3 linked regions of the Homo sapiens genome follow. The protein of the gene in region 1 interacts with the protein of each later gene in a pairwise test. Each region holds a gene or a part of one and is shown in the gene's direction. Other genes may lie near its edges.

Region 1 (2,769 bases):
AACTATTTAACGTGAAATCCATTAACTGGAATAATTGAGTTTCTTTATTTTTACAATAAATTCACTGAGTAAATAAGTTGGAGCTGGAATTCTGAGCTTTGTGTTTGGACTGTCTGGTCTGTAGCTAAAGGAAAAAGTTAGGAGGGGAATATTTATTTAAATCTATCAGTTCATTGCCTGGTCAGGTCTCTGGCCTATAAACATGCAAAAAAACTAATTCATGTTAAAGTCCTTCCAGATCCTAATTTCTAAAGCAATCAGGAGAGAAAGCTTTTAGAATGGCACATCATATCTCATTGATGCCAACATGGTTTTGTCCATGGTTCTGACTTTCTGTGAAGGCACCAGCTTGCAATATGCCATCCCATTTCACCTTGCATGTGAGACAGCAAACAAAATCCACAAATGGTGTGAACTAATATGCTGGCTGCTACCTTGCATAAATTAATGATTTGATCACACGGGTTCTTCGTGGGGTTACATCTGTGAATAGCCTGTTTTCCACATGTAAATTTGTGCCTTACACCTTGAGTTGTGTACACTTGTAAACTCTTTATGATCAACTGTTCCCCCTTTTGAAATAAGTGCAGATATTTATTTAACCCTCCCTTCCCCACCCTCTGCCCCACTTCCAGCCCTCTGAAAGATTGGAGTCAAGCAGATGGAAGAATGCAGTGGTGATAGTTGTCATGCGACAGCCTGAGAACGCTGGGCAGCACCACACCCTCCAATTCACACTGCCTTCTAGTTGTGCCAACTGGAACCACCCTTTGGCTGTGCTGCGAAGCATGGACCCCAGTGTTGTTGTGGGTGTGTCAAATCCCCTTTCATCCTCAAGAGCTCCCTGCTTCCCTTAGATTATTTCAATACGGTGATATCCTTATTTGCTAGCAGAAAAGGGACTAACGTCCCATTCCTCTTTTCTGCTGCGTCCACTGGCTAGAGAGCAGGCGGTGCGCGGTTGGGCAGACACCTGGGAGGAGTCTCCAAGCCATGTGCACAGCACACACGTGCAGTGCACACAAAGAAATGACATGGAAATAGATGCAGGCAGGCTGGTCCCTGCTGTGATTAACGAGTAACTCCAAGTACAAGGCCGACCACAATGGATGCTGCAAAAACGTTGACTGGGGCAAAGGATTTTTTATTTTATTTTTTATTTTGTTAATTATGTTTTTAGGGGATGGGAGGTGGTGTGTGTTTTTCTCCTCTTGGTTTTCATTTGCTCAAGCACACAAAAGGGACTTTTGTTTACTCTATCATGAACAAAGGAACTGTCCACATACTGTAAACCATGAGCAGTGTTGTTGTTGTTTTTTTAAACAGTATATTTGGTGGTCTCTTTGTCTGCTTTTATTTCCAGTTCGATCTTCTGGGTTTAGTTTTGTCTTTAAAAAGAATTCAAAAAAAGACTGACAATGACAGTTTTGAGTTGGATAGTGAAAAAGTGGAGCCTCCATAATCAGTGTGGTTGCCTTCAGACCTGAGTACTTAGCTGAGGGTGGGTGAGAGCCCTTTGTTCCAAAAGTCCATTAGTTTTGCTGTTGTTTAGGAGTAGGTGGTTGTTGTTGTTTTTACTTTTTTTTTTTTTGGCTTTTGTAATGGAATCCATGTTCACATCCTGTGAACTCTGTCTCCTGAAACCCTGAAGTATTTCCTAGAACCTGAAATATTGTTTTCTTCCTTGAATTTTCTCTAGAAATGCAGAAATTAGGAAGGTGATGGGTCTGTATCCCCCTGCCCCCTTCTTTCCCATGCTTGACTCCCGAGAGTACTGGCAGTGCAGCACCCATCATTGACGTAAGCGGCTGTCTTGTCCAGTGTTTGTAGGCATCACTGCCTCAGCTGTTAAGGAGACCTGTGTCAAAACTTACATCCACATTCCTACACCCCCACAACCCATCACTTCTGGTGTTAACCCTAAAATACCCACATGTATTGAGCTGGTCTTCTGCATTTAAGTATTTCTCCCCAGTTTTTTTCCCCACTGTGTGTGGGGGGAGGGTCCATAAACCCGAGTGTGCCTTTGCTTTCCACCCTTGCTAGACACTGGTAGATGCAACAAACTCAGATTTATATTTGTTGTAAAGTTGTAAAAATATTGTGATGTCACCAATTTTCCTTCCATCTCCACATCCCCTAACATCTGATTCACGACTTAATGTATGTTGTAAGAAAAGAAAAAAGAAAAGAAAAAAAGGGAAAAAAGAAAAGCAAGGAAAAGGCTCTTTATTACTTAAAAGTAATAAAACCTGACTGTTCTATATTATCTTTTGTGTCCTGAATGCTTTTATTTATCTCTTAATTTTTCCTTTTTAAGCTGCTCTCCTCCCCACCCTTTGTGGGTATGATGCTACTCTTTCCTCCATTTGTATCTGGCTTCCAAAGCATACATAACGGTATAGTTTGATGTATTTGTTTGCAGTGTCCACACCCAGCCACCCCCACCCAAATTATTGACGTGTTTCTCTGCTCAAACCCAGCCTGGAGCAGGATTTTAGCAGAAGCCACCGGTAATTAAAAAGCAGAGCATGCATTGGCTCCTTCTATTCATTTTATGCATTTTCTTTTTATGGGCTTGTTCATCATCAAACATTTATGGTAGGCTTGATAGTTTAAGAGATCAAGGCTAGGATTTTAGTATGTAGGGTCCACTAAAAATAGATCCTTGCACAGATGTGACTTCAGTCTTCTTACATATTAATAAGGTGGAGGGGGCTGGATTTTACTCCTTGTTAGCATTTATCTTTTGTAACACAGAGGGTATAT
Region 2 (7,055 bases), on another chromosome or scaffold:
CCTGTAGTCCCAGCTATTCAGGAGGCTGAGGCCGGAGAATGACGTGAACCTGGGAGGCAGAACTTGCAGTGAGCCGACATCACGCCACTGCACTCCAGCCTGGGCAACAGAGCGAGACTCCATCTCAAAAAAAAAAAAAAAAAAGCAAAAATTAGGCGGGCCATGGTGGCACTTGCCTATAATCTCTGCTACTCAGGAGGCTGAGGCAGGAGAATCACTTGAATCGGGGAGGCAGAGGTTGCACTGAGCTGAGATTGTGCCACTGCACTCTAGCCTCAATGACAGAGGGAGACCCTGTCTCCAAAAAAAAAAAAAAAGTATTTATATCAGTCTATAAGAAAAATACTAACAATCCAATAGAAATATGGATAGAGTATGGAAATAAGCAAATCCTAAAAAAAGAAAATAGATGCTTAATCTCATTAATAAATAGAAATACAAGTTAAAACAATATAATACACCTTGTTACTTCAAAAAACGATTTTTAAACTTACACTTTGATCTAGCAAATTCTACTTTTAGGAGTTTACCCTATGGATATGCTTGTACGAGCCTGCCAAGACATAGTAAATGGCAACGTCTCTATAAAATGGAATACCATGCTATCAGCCTATCCCTATTGATATGCAAAGATGTTCATGAAATATTATTTCATGAGAGAATAGAATGGATTGCTTGGTTTTATTTGTATTAAAAATCAATAAAGTAGATACATGTATAACAACATCTACATAGAAAATGAAGGATATGTTTTAAATTGTTAAATGGAAATCCATCTGGGAAGTGGGTTGGGAAGAGACAGATGTGGGGAACTGGCTGAGGCCTTTTACTTTTTACTTCATAATGTTCTATACCAAGGGTGTCCAATCTTTTGGCTTCCCTGGATCACATTGGAAGAAGAATTGTCCTGGGCCACACATAAAATACACTAACACTATCAATAGCTGATGAGCTTAAAAAAAAAAAAAAAAGAAAAGAAAAAACAAAACCTCAAAAAAAATCTCATAATGTTTTAAGAAAGTTTACAAATTTGTGTTGGGCTACATGTAGAGGACCGTGGGTTGGACAAGCTTGCTCTAGTGGGTTGTGAATTAAAATAATTACTTCTCAGATCTACTGTTTGTATCCTGTAGTGCTCAGAAGCTACAGACTGATTCATCTGTAAAGCTTCCTATAAAATAGTAACTATTCAACTTAGTTCTTATTAAAAAATTTTTTCTCTTTAAAATATTGTAAGTCCCGCCTTTTAAAAAAGGCTATATTCTCTCTAGCAAAGAGGGCAACCATACACACAAAAAAGTTTATTTTAATATTTCTTAAGCTGCCTTGTTGTTTTTATTAATATTATTTTTGTCAGTATTTCATCTCATATTTATTTATACTTCTGATAACTCTCAAAAACACATTCTTTCTACATTTTAGACTTTTTTCCAAAAAGGGGCATAAGAATTTTAAGAGTAATGAATAGAATCCCTGCTTTTATCTCCAGTATACTGAATTTTACCTTATATCCAACCTAAGTCTTATCAAAGCTCCTTACCAAATGCTTGGAAGAAGGTATTTTAGGATACAAATTTATTTTGCAGGTGATGAGTGTACTCCTAACATTAAAGGTCATAGTTAGATAAATGTCACAGAAAGCTCACACTACTGAGCTCAAACATTCATACATGAATTTTATCAAAATTCTACTAAAAGCTATCAGATTCTTGGTTTCCTATTGTTACCAAAGGTTGCTATACTTACAGCAAAAGCTGCTTTATGTTTCTGCCTGATTTACTTAATGCCTCTACCAAATAGTCTTAACTTTATGATTTTCTCTGGAACTGATACAGGAAGCAAGGAGCAGTGTTTTTTAATACTAATATGTGCTGCTTCAGAAGAAATCTCAAGTAATTTTAAAGTATGACAGCATCTTGCTAACAAATATTACTGTCCATGCATAAAAATCAAATGCAGAAAAAATATGCTAGGCTATTTAGAGGAATAGAAATCAAATAGAAAAATGAAACTTGTCCATTTAAAGTGAGATTATGCATTATACATGTGGAGAGCTAAAAGAGACCTAAAAATCATTGGCTCCAACTTACTTTATAGATTAGGAAGCTGTGAACAATAGAGGTAAGATGGCTCCCTTAAGGCCCCAAAGTTAGGTAATGGCTGTGCTAGGACTAGAACTGTGGTCTTCTACTTGCCAGTTGGCTTGTTACACCACTCCAGGATGTGTCTACCTGCATACACATGATTCTGCATAAATTTTTCCAAGCATCCAACCCTATGGTCCAGCAGTTCTACTCCTGGACATGTACCCAATATCCAGATGGGAGCTTATGTCCACCAAAAGACACATAACTAGATTATTCACAGCAGCATTGTTCTTAATAGCCACTGTCTATTGGAAGGAAGGAAGACAGGAAAGGAGGAAAGAAAACCCACATGTTAATCAGCAGTAGAATGGATAGATAAATTATAGTGTATTTACACAATAGAATATTACACAGCAATTTAAAAGAAAGAACTACTGACTCATGGAGCAATATGGATAAATCTCAAAAAGCATATTGTTGAGCAAAAGTAGCTAGACATAAGAAATTATGGAAAGCACTGTGTTATTTTTATGCCTGTTTGTAAGGTCCTTAAGGGCAGAGATCATTTCTCTGCATTTGTAGATCTTTAACACCAAGCACATTATTCAGCACATAATTGGTGCTCAGAGTCCAGGCACAGTGGCTCACGCCTGTAATCCCAGCACTTTGAAAGGCTGAGACAGGAGGATCGCTTGAGCTCAGAAGTTCGACACCAGCTAGATATCATAATGAGACCTCATTGCTACTAAAATTAGCTGGGTGTGGTGTTGCATACCTATAGTCCCAACTACTCAGGAGGTTGAGGCAAGAGGATTGCTTGAGCCCAGGAGTTCGAGGCTGCACTGAGCAATGAATGTGCCACTGCACTTCAGCCAGGGCAACAGAGTGAGACCTTTCCCCCCAGTCCCCCCAAAAATAGATGCTCAATGTGTATTTATTTTAATGGAGAATATATGATATGAAGAAAGACACAAAGGAAGCACCCAGTATTGTTCTGTTGAGAAAGCAGCAGGAAATATTGGGAACAATATTTTAATCCTCAGATGTTTATACCAGAGCACAGCATATGGAAACCTGAAATACTAACACAATGTTGAATATATAACTGACACTTGGCCAGCCAGGTATGATCATGATGAGACTATAGTAATTTTTCAGAACCTTTCAAAACAAGCACCACTAATGGAGTCTATTGTTTGACCCCAGAATTAATCTAAACATGATATCAACTAGATTTGATAGTTTCCTCTATTCATATTTTTTGCCTCAATGAGAAGAAAGTCTTCTCAACTCCCTCCTCTACTTCTTACTCACTGGGACAGGAGTGCTGAGTTGATCAGTCAGTTTCCAGCACACTGATTAGGTTTGCACTTTCAAAGATTTGTTTCTAGGTGTCTAAATAAGCTTATGGTGGAAGAAGACATTCTCTGGCTCCTTTTTCTCCAGCATTGCCAGGTGTGCTGGCCCTTCATTTCATGAGGATGTTGTGTTTGGGATGGAGGAGATGAAGTAGCTTTTCAATCTGCTTTGTTTCCAGGCTCCTTACACCCAACCTGTGCAGGAAAGAGGACCCTACCCCTCCATGGTTCACTGCAGTTTATTAGAGCTCTACAGTGAGGTTCAGGCCACTCCCACTATAATATAAAGCATTACTTTGCTTCATTTGGGCTTTTTATTCTCAAGGTGGGATAGCTAGACCAAGAAAGGATTTGTAAATTCTGGATCTCCTGGCCAATTGCCTTGAAAATGCTTGTAATAGGGCCACCCTCAACTAGAACCTCATTTTCATCCCTAAACACATATCGGAAGAAGTCTTTATGATCTTTCTCCCGCCATTGGTACTTCAGGCATTGACAGGTGTTATTCTGGCGTTACTGCCTATTATTTCTGAATGATTATCATGTGGAGAAACTTCTTAAAGTCTGAAGAAGAGATATGGTCATGTTTGATAAAGATTTATCTTACTAATTATAGATGAGACAAGCCACCTGAATTTGAGTCCCCAAGGAGCCTTAGGAACAAATTGTCAGTCAATTTGCAATCATCTGTAGAAGCAGTGACTGCTGAGCTCCAGTTAACATGGCTTTGTGAGGAAGCGGTTGTTCCAAAGCAAGTTCATTTCATAAAATATTGACTGAGAGAGTTTCCATTCTTCTAGTAGAGTGATCTTATCAACAGGATGAGAAGACATAGCCTGAACAATTTAAGTGGGAAAAATAGTACATGATATTATTTTATATAAAGACATTTGTGAAGTGCCCAATGTGTAATGCCGAGATGGAAAAATCACTGTTTTCCTTAATATTATATTTAAGTTACCTTTTAAAAGTTTATTATTTTGCATCTCAATTTTTTTTGAGAGGTTGAGCTATGTTTCCATTACTGTAATATCTGGGAAAGTTATATGCAGCTTATTGTCACTGAAGCTTTCCAGAAATGTTTTATTTTACCCTAGGGAAAACAAAAGGCTTGTGTTCTTTCCTTTCTTGCTGATAATATCAGTGGAGTGCACAGATTTTGACCCCTGGTACTCTTAATTTACACTGGGGCTTTTCAGATAGATGAAGTTAACTTGCCAATAGGACTTGAATTTCATGTCTTACCCTGTTATGATTTAAAGTACGTGCACATAGGATGATAGCTGATACAATGACATGACAAAAAACATATTAAGAGTTTCTGCCAGCTTTTTGTGAGGTTCTCCCAGAATACAGAAAGAAAGGCAGGAGGTAAATATACATGGAAGCACATGAGTTCATTTTGAATGGTTTTATTCTTTGTCTTCTTGCTCATTTTTACCAAACCCAGAAGTTGCCCCTTCATTGTTCAGTTGTGCTTTGAGCAAATACCCAACCATTATTGTGCAACAGGGTGTCACGAAAAGGGTGATAAATACACCATTTTGATTGCTCTTCTCGAAATTTCACAGTGAGCTGAAATAAATTTTCATTTGTTATTGGCAAGTTTTAAAATCAGACATTATGGAAATTCTTAAGAAAATTGTCTTTTACTCTTTCAGTCTTGCAATGGAATTGTTTATTCTTGATTTAATATCTACCTGTGATATAGATACAATGAAGTCCCAATATTGAGAGAAGAGATATCTCACATGGGAAAAACAGACACTGCATAGGCAAACTTTAAAGTAGTGACTTTAAATTTTGGATGAAATCATGTTGGAAATAAACCTCAGGGAATTCTTAGGAATTGTTTAACCTTCTTGTGTTGGTTTGTTGGTTGCTTTTGCAGTTTAACTCGGCTGCTAAGCAGCTGATAGAATGGGATAAGCCTCCTGTGCCAGGAGTTGATGCTGGAGAATGTTCCTCGGCAGCAGCCCAGAGCAGCACTGCCCCAAAGCACTCCGACACCAAGAAGAACACCAAAAAGCGGCACTCCTTCACTTCCCTCACTATGGCCAACAAGTCCTCCCAGGCATCCCAGAACCGCCACTCCATGGAGATCAGCCCCCCTGTCCTCATCAGCTCCAGCAACCCCACTGCTGCTGCACGGATCAGCGAGCTGTCTGGGCTCTCCTGCAGTGCCCCTTCTCAGGTAAATCCTCAAACAAGTGTTATATAAAAAGAGCTCACCCACAAAAGGATCAACTTACAAACATGTTTGCTCACTGGCTGACAAACATTGCTTATTTTGAACTTCTGAAGATAGTAACTTTTCTGGGAAGCAAAACCTGTCTTCATTTTGTAAGTGGAAAAATGGAGAAGGGAAAGCTAACTTGAGTGTATCAACCCAGAACTAACTACTCTGTCATTTTCAAAGGAAAGATCAGAACTTACAAGATGAGTTATATAATACTTACCAGTTTCACCAAGCAATCACTCAGCCTTACAGAACTTTCTCACAGTACTGCTTTGGGAGATCTTGCCAACTAAAACTTTATCTCCACCCAGATTTAAGATGCCATGGTCCAAACTCGTGACGTTTGTAGTTGCTTGTATCTATGTAACTTACCTTAATATGTAGGCTTCCCAGAATTATAGAGAAGAGAAAAAGAGCAAGGACAGAAAGAAGCATTTAATTTAAATTAGAAATTGACCTCACACTTTCTAAGTTCATTAGTTCATTACAACTTTGGACTGGTATGTAAAAAATAGCCACGCGTTATTCTTAGGTTTATAAAAATACATGGGATGACTGGGGCATTCATTCAATCATTCATTCATTCATTTGGCAGACATTTATTGAGCACTTTACTATTAGACCCTTCTAGGCACTGTGTATACCATGATATCTAAAATATAGCAATTTGCTGTGTTAGGCTTTAATTCTGCACTACAAAAAGAACCTAATTATAACCCTGCCCAAGCCACGGGGCTGCTATCATTATCCACTTAGGTGATGGCTGTATTTTGTTCAACTTAAAGGTCAAAGAATCTAGTTCAAAGCTGCCTGTCACAAGCAGAAGGAATTTCTTTCAAGTCTCATGTTTCATCTTGAAAATTCATGCAGATTTTACATTCTGCTCCACCATATAGCTATGGTGGTTTTTTTTTCTTTAAACATTAAAATGAAATTATGTCCCCTTAAAGAAAAAGAAAGAAATACCAGTCCTGGTCCTCAAAAAGTTTACATTCTAGTAAGTGCCTATTTTGGACCACAGAATGAAAATGTAAAATACAGTTTTTGATATCCCTTGCCATTTTTTTCTCAGCCTCATGTTTGTTTGTTTGTTTGTTTTTAATAGAGATGGGGTCTCACCTTGTTGCCCAGGCTGGTAACAAGCTCTTGGCCTCAAGTGAACATCCTACCTGGGCCTCCCAAAGTGGTGGGATTACAAGTATGAGCCACAGCCTCAGCCTCATTTATTTGACCCTGCTCCTTTAGATTTATACTGCGTGTTTCAAGTTAAATGCATTCACTTTCTGAATGGGATTGTGGGATTGTTGTTTTGTGGCATTTTTAGGTGGTAGGGCCATGAAACTCTTATTGAGAAATAAAGACACGCACAAC
Region 3 (7,055 bases), on another chromosome or scaffold:
GGGTTGGAGCGATTCTCTGGCCTCCATCTCCCAAGTAGCTGGGACTACAGGCATCTGCTACGATGCCCAGCTAATTTTCGTATTTTTAGTAGAGCTGGGGTTTCACCATGTTGGCCAGGCTGGTCTTGAACTCCTGGCGTCAAGTGATCCTCCCGCCTCTGTCTCCCAACAGTGCTGGGATTGCAGGCATGAAGGGCATTCCTTCTTGGATTGTCATCTTCCTTTCTCCTAAGGAGAGAACACTGGGATTTTTTGTTTTGAGTTCTTTGAATTCAGCTGGTAGAATCAGTGTTCTGTGGCTAGAAGTAATGATTTTCACTGGGCCAGTTTGGACTCTGAAGAGTAATGTATTTAAGGATCTTTCATGCAAAGTGAATGATTCTAGCCACATTCCCACCTAGAAAACTCCACCACAGTATCCTCAGGCCCAGGGCACTGGCCTCTCAGGGGCACTGGATGGTTTGTGCCGGGATTTAAAAAGTGAAATTTTCTTTCTCTTTAAGCAACTTATTTTCAACTCTCTCACCAACTGCCTGGGGCCCCGGAAGCTCTTACACAGTGGGAAATTATACAAGACCAAGAGCAACAAGGAACTGCACGGATTCCTCTTCAATGACTTCCTGCTTCTTACCTACATGGTCAAGCAGTTTGCTGTTTCCTCTGGCTCTGAGAAACTTTTCAGCTCGAAGTCCAATGCTCAATTCAAAATGTATAAAACGGTGAGTATCACGCGTCTGGGGGTAGCATCAGGGGCCTAATGAGGTGTTGCCTCTATCTTAAGGCCTTCCTGGCAGACCCTGAGCTGGCCTTACGGGACCCTCCTCACCTGGTTCCAGATCGCTCGTGCTTCCTTTGCTGCTTCCCACGGGAAGGGCCCCATGCAGCTGGGCACTCCCCACCTGCCACAGGCCATCAGCCAGATTCCAGCTGAGATTCTGGCTTCCTCCTGGCCAGCGTGACACCTGGGCTCACCACTGTGTGCATTCAGCATTGGGTCTCTGTAAGCCGAGCCCCAGCACAGCACCAGCGTTGCTAGCAGAGAGCCTTTTGCACCAGCCGTCATGGGCGCTTGGAGCTCCTGTCCCCACCCAGTCCCAACACCTGACCCACCTCGATAATGACTTTTCCAGAAATGGAGGCTTCATTGTTCTTACAAATGGAGGTTTCATTTGTTCTGTGTAGAAGACCTTAGACGCTAGACCCCTTTCTCCTTCTCAACAAGGCTCTTCAGAACAAACAGAACTCTCTCTGGACATAGGCGGGTGGAGTGTTCTAGCCCATCTCACAGCCTGTGTTTTGGCCCTAATTCTTTCAGCCCATTTTCCTGAATGAAGTCTTGGTGAAACTGCCCACAGACCCTTCCAGCGATGAGCCTGTCTTCCACATTTCCCACATTGATCGGGTCTACACCCTCCGAACAGACAACATTAATGAGAGGTCAGTCCTGACCATGTGTGGCCTGCCTTGAACTCTGGGAGAAGGCCTGGACGTCTCCCTCTGCCATAAACCCATCTCCAGCCGTGCTTAAGCCCCACTAATTCTGTATCCTGAACCTCTCTTAACACATCCCCTCTGCTCCAGTCCCATGGTAGGCCTTGGTCACTGCAGCTGCCTCCTAACATGCTTCCCGGCTTCTAGTCTCTCCCCACACCACTCAGCAGCCTTCCCAAATGGCAGATCAGCACCTGAGGCCCTGCTACAGTCCCTGCAGGGGCTGCCCGCAGGCGACAGCCCACTGTGCTTTGCTGGTTTCCGAGGCCTCCTTGGGCCACAGGCCTCAGCCCTCGTCCCTCCACCTGCAGACTTTCGCCCCTCAGGCGCCCTTGTGTGGGTGCCATCCCCGCTGTTCCCAGCTTCCTTCAGGCTGCAGCTCCAACAGTGCCTCCGCGGCGCCAACCCGGGGGGTGCTGCTGCTCCTCTGTGTGCGCTAGAACCCCTCGTGACAGGTATCATCCGTGGGGCCAATGCATCATCTGTCTCCAGGTCCCAGCGCCTTGCGAGTGCCTGGCATTTTGTGGTCAGCCAAGAAGGGTCACTACCAGCTCTCATACTCCATTAGCATAAGCATCTTTCAGTTGACTAATATCAGGTCTTTGATAGGAAACTTGTGAAAGTTGAGGTTAGCAAAAGACTGAAGAACATGTGCAGAGCTCTGGGGCTCCACGCTGACCTGTGAGGGTGGGATGCGGCCAACGGCTGCCCCTGCTTCTCCCGTAGGACCGCCTGGGTGCAGAAGATCAAGGCGGCGTCTGAGCAGTACATCGACACCGAGAAGAAGAAGCGTGAGAAAGCTTACCAAGGTATCAGGGTGCCCGGAGGGTGGGACGCAGCCCCCAGGGGCCCTAGGAATGCCGGCCACTGCTCCTGCAGTCAGGCTGATGATATAGGGACGGGTCTGAAAGACCAGACCTGCTGCGGGATCAGACCAGAGAGCCCTCCCCTCTTGAAGCTACTACTGCAAACCTCCCTGGGGCTCCTGCCCACACAGACACGGGCTGGCAGTGCCAGCTCCGGGACCTCCCTCTCTGCACCACCTCTATCCCCCCCACTCCACTGCACCTTCTCCACTCCTTTCTCTCCATGACTCACCTCACCTCTGCTTGGGCTGTGGTGCTCCATTACATGCCACACCTGTGGTCTGTCTCCCTTCAGCTCCTGAGCAGCCACTGCTCCTCCTCACCCTCCTCTAGGGCCTGCCATCCACCCTCTCCCTTTGCAGCCAGGGGGCCTAGACCCTAAGTCTGCCCTCTCCCCATCCTTCTGCCCCTGCCTCCTCCCCCTTCTCACTTCACCAGACTTCAGTCCACGTCCTGTCCCCACCAGTGACACCAGTGGCCTAGTTAGTGGCTCAGCTCACTTTCCCTGCCCCAGCTCCCTGCACTGATGGCAGTCACTGAGGCGCTGCCTTCCCTCTGGACCCCATGGCCGCCTTCCCAGTTCTTCTTCCACCCTTGCCCAGGCCTCTCCCCGACCTCTGTAGCGCTCTCCCTCGGGGACCCCACCGACCCCCAGCTTCAGGGTCAGGCTAGCCACACTCTCCCAAGCCCGCGCCTCTGAACAGCACCCTCCAGAGAACCACCTGCCCCGCTGCTCCCACATCACACATCGGCTTTTCCCAAGGGACCACCAGCCTCCTTCCAGCAGCAGCTCCTCCTGGGACCCTCTGTGGACAGTAGTGTGGTCCCTGGCCACCCAGGCCCCTCCCTGGCACCTCACACCTGGTCAGCTGCACTGCAGTCCTCCTCCCTCGCCACTTTCCCATCGCCCTTTCCTGTCCCCGTATCACAGGCCCCCGATCTCCCACCCAGGCTGCAGCACAAGGCTCTCTTTCCTCTCTGCCACCCATCCTCTTCATTTCTGGAGTATTCTTTTTTCCAGAGCTGCTCTTATACCTCTTCCTGCTGAAGTATCTTCCCTATTGCCTCCCAAATTAACGACACATTTCTTACCCCACACTCAGGGCCCATCCCCACTACTACCTGCCACCCAGCCCCATCCCTAGCTCTTTCCTGTGCCCGGCCCATCCAGCTGCCTAGTTGAGCAGCCCATTGTTGCCCTGCCTGGCCTTCCCATGTGAGCTCCCCCTCCAGCTCAAGTGCTCTGCCCTCACCTTAAATTCTTCCCATCCTTCAAGGCCCACGTCAAACACAGCCTCCTCCATGACACCCTCTTGCCCTAACCAGTGTGACTTCTACCTGGACCCCCCGCTGTCCTGAGGCTGCGATCATCCTCCGGGCGCTCATCCTCTGTTGCCTCTGCTTGCGCCCTCTCAGTCCCTGCTTTTCTCACTTAATGGCCATAAGCTCCCTCAAGGCAACTCCCTCCCACATCGGGGCCAGCATGTGACTTATGCCAGTGGGGCTCCAGATTTGTTGCACCGGTGATGTCCTCTGTGTTCATGGCACAGATCACTCACCTGCTCAGTGGAGCCGCAATGGTCTTTGTAAAGCACCCCCCACCCCACCCTGCCCCACCGTGGCCTTCAGACCAGAGCTCCCACATTCTTCTCCAGCCTCCACATGAATGCCAGGCCCCAACCTCCCTGCTGCATCTCCAGCTGTGCCAGGCCAGCCTGTGGCCTCCACCCCACAGGGGGCCTGTGCTCTGAGCCAGCTGCATCTCCACCTTCCTCCCCGCCGGCCCCCTGCATCTCCACCTTCCTTCCCGCCGGGCCCCCCCATGCAGCCTGCCCTCCTGCCTGGGCCTCCCACCAGCTTCCTGGCTGCTATAGTTGCAGCTCTTTATGTGTTTTTTTATTCAGGTTTCCCCCATTTTGTTATATACTCCTAAAAGGTATGTTTAAAACAGCTTTTGCTAATTTAGTGTTATTTTAATGGTACTTTAAAAGCTTGCTGTTGAAAAATCAATGATTGATCATTTCATAACGCATATGATCTCTTAATTGGCCAAAGATGTCAATCCGGTTTTTCTGCCTGAGTTTTGCTTCCCATCAGCATCTGCATATGTTGCTGTGCATCGTCCGTGCGTTCAGTCCTTCCCACATTTGTCAATTACTTTGTGCCAGGCTCTGTGCTAGGCTTAACTGAGCCTGGACTTTGGTATCTGATGTTTAAATGTTGACCCTGCCATTTAGCAGCTCTGAGTGGATCACACTCCAGTCCTTTCTAAGCCTCAGTGTTTCTCATCAGTAAAATGGGGAGCTACATTATCAGGTAATTATGCAGTTTAAATAATATAATTTACATAAGTCTAGCACATGCCTAACACAAAGTAAGTATCCAGTAAATGTTAGCTGCTATTAAGTGCTGCACAAATACCATGTATTATTTTATTAATATTACTATTTGCTAGGCAATTGAGGGGTTAATATAAGGATGATCGAAACAGTCCATGCTCTACCCTGGCTCCTGTCTGGCAGAGGAGACAGACATTACACACGATTTCAGACCCAGCAGGCTGTGGGCTGCTCATAAGCGAGGGATACTGGATGCAGAGGAGGGAAGGGATCTGGGAGGTAGATGTGGGATCAGACCTGCATCTTGAAGGATGAGTAGGATGCTGACGGGCAGAGAAAGCAGGCAGGGCAGAAAGAGCAAGCAGGGGCTTCCTAGCAGGCAACACAGCCTGGGGAAAGGCACAGGGCAGCCAGATGCTGGGCTGTTGGGCCCAGGGCAGTGGCAGATGGGGACAGGGAGCCGGTAGTGTTATGGTTGGTTTGAAAGACAGGGTCTGCATCCTTGGAGAAGAGATTAATGAGACTTGTCTTCCTCTTTTGTAGCCCGCTCCCAAAAGACTTCAGGCATTGGGCGCCTGATGGTGCATGTCATTGAAGCTACAGAATTAAAAGCCTGCAAACCAAATGGTAAATACTGCCTTGATTCATTCAGCAGACATAACTGCCCTGCCCCAGTTTTTGCTGATGACTTTTTGAGACAGAGTCTCAGTGTATAACCTAGGCTGGAGTGCAGTGGCACGATCTTGGCTCACTGCAACCTCTGCCTCTGGGGTACAAGTGATTCTCAAGGCTTAGCCTCCTGAGTAGCTGGGATTACAGGTGTGCACCACCACGCCTGGCAAATTCTTGTATTTTTAGTAGACACAGGGTTTCACCATGTTGGCCAGGCTGGTCTCGAACTCCTGACCTCAAGTGATCTGCCCGCCTCGGCCTCCCAAAGTGCTGGGATTACAGCACTTTGTCACTGACAAAGTGCCACTGCGCCCAGCCACTGATGACTCTTCTGAACACTGAATAAAGGAATGCTTTCTAACAGTGTGTCCAGTGCCACTAAAATGCGCATATTGGACCAATATTCTTATCACTGTTTTCCCAGTAAGTGCCAGTGCCCGCCTTCCCGAGTGTGTCTGCGCCGAGGAAGCATGCAGCAGGTTGCAGTGACACTCACCCAGGATTGTTCCGTGCGGAGTGGTCCTGGCGGTGGAGCTCTCGGCCACTCCCCAGTTAATGCTGCTGTCAGCACTGGGAACTTGGAGACCCTGTTACTAGACCACAGGGATATGGTGCCCCAGGCAGCGGCTCCTGCTGCCATGGTCTCGAGTGACCCATTATTGGAATCCTGCTTCTGCTCAGGGAGGGCACTGTCAGTCGCTTCGTTTTACCTGCATGCACCACATGTGTCTGTGGTTTGTTTTTGTTCAGGAAAGAGCAACCCATACTGTGAAATCAGCATGGGCTCCCAGAGCTACACCACCAGGACCATCCAGGACACACTCAATCCCAAGTGGAATTTTAACTGCCAGTTCTTTATTAAGGATCTCTACCAAGACGTGCTGTGTCTCACCCTGTTTGACAGAGACCAGTTTTCACCAGATGGTAAGTGTCGCTCAGCCAGGGGATCTAAAGGCTTTCCCAGTTTCCTAGATCCTGGAGTCCAGATCTAGGGGCTTCAGCTGTGTGCAGACCCCATGCCACTTCAGGGAAGTGACACAGGCCTGTGTCATCTCGCTTTGGCAGCAGGTGGGTGGCCTTCCTCAGGGGAGGAGGTGGCCTGAGATGTGTTTCAGGTCTTTGACCCATCACTCCCTACACACACGACGTGAACACCACTCCTGGAGCATTCTCAGAATGGAGATTTGAATTCCATGTGGCAGCTTCTCACACACAAACCTGCCATCATTCCCCACACACCCACTCACGACATTCAACAGCCATGAGCCAAAAGAAGTTCCTTGTTTCAGATTTGAAGGTTTTATGAATCCACTTCTTCCGGATGTAGCTCTTTAATGATTTTATAAAGAAGAAAGACTTCTGACTCTCCTGTGTTTATTCACCAGATTTCCTGGGTCGTACTGAAATTCCAGTGGCAAAAATTCGAACAGAACAGGAAAGCAAAGGCCCTATGACCCGCCGACTGCTGCTGCATGAGGTCCCCACCGGGGAGGTCTGGGTCCGTTTTGACCTGCAGCTTTTTGAGCAAAAAACTCTCCTGTAGGGGTTCTAAAGGACAGCACCAGCGGGACAGCCCACAAGGCTGGGGCTGGAGAATGAGAGACTGCGCTCTCTTGGGGCTGAGGGAGCACCATGCAGCTTCACCCCTCACAAAGCCATGCACGCTGGGGGCTCTGTTTTCCTGCAC

The links. Proteins that work in one complex are often made in the same cells at the same time.
Region 2: the proteins of SEMA6A (region 1) and SH3RF1 interact in a two-hybrid assay, tested with the Homo sapiens proteins (one study listed by BioGRID and IntAct).
Region 3: the proteins of SEMA6A (region 1) and ITSN2 interact in a two-hybrid assay, tested with the Homo sapiens proteins (one study listed by BioGRID and IntAct).

Annotation. Positions count from the first base shown.
Region 1 is NC_000005.10:116,443,055-116,445,823, reverse strand, and holds the end of SEMA6A (semaphorin-6A isoform 2 precursor), read left to right. Parts: 3' UTR 1-2,269; downstream 2,270-2,769. UniProt on the Homo sapiens protein: Cell surface receptor for PLXNA2 that plays an important role in cell-cell signaling. Required for normal granule cell migration in the developing cerebellum.
Region 2 is NC_000004.12:169,134,902-169,141,956, reverse strand, and holds part of SH3RF1 (E3 ubiquitin-protein ligase SH3RF1), read left to right. Parts: intron 1-5,336; coding exon 5,337-5,639; intron 5,640-7,055. UniProt on the Homo sapiens protein: Has E3 ubiquitin-protein ligase activity. In the absence of an external substrate, it can catalyze self-ubiquitination. Stimulates ubiquitination of potassium channel KCNJ1, enhancing it's dynamin-dependent and clathrin-independent endocytosis.
Region 3 is NC_000002.12:24,203,482-24,210,536, reverse strand, and holds part of ITSN2 (intersectin-2), read left to right. Parts: intron 1-503; coding exon 504-719; intron 720-1,315; coding exon 1,316-1,437; intron 1,438-2,217; coding exon 2,218-2,300; intron 2,301-4,261; coding exon of another isoform or gene 4,262-4,290; exon of another isoform or gene 4,291-4,293; intron 4,294-5,239; coding exon 5,240-5,323; intron 5,324-6,118; coding exon 6,119-6,292; intron 6,293-6,753; coding exon 6,754-6,911; 3' UTR 6,912-7,055.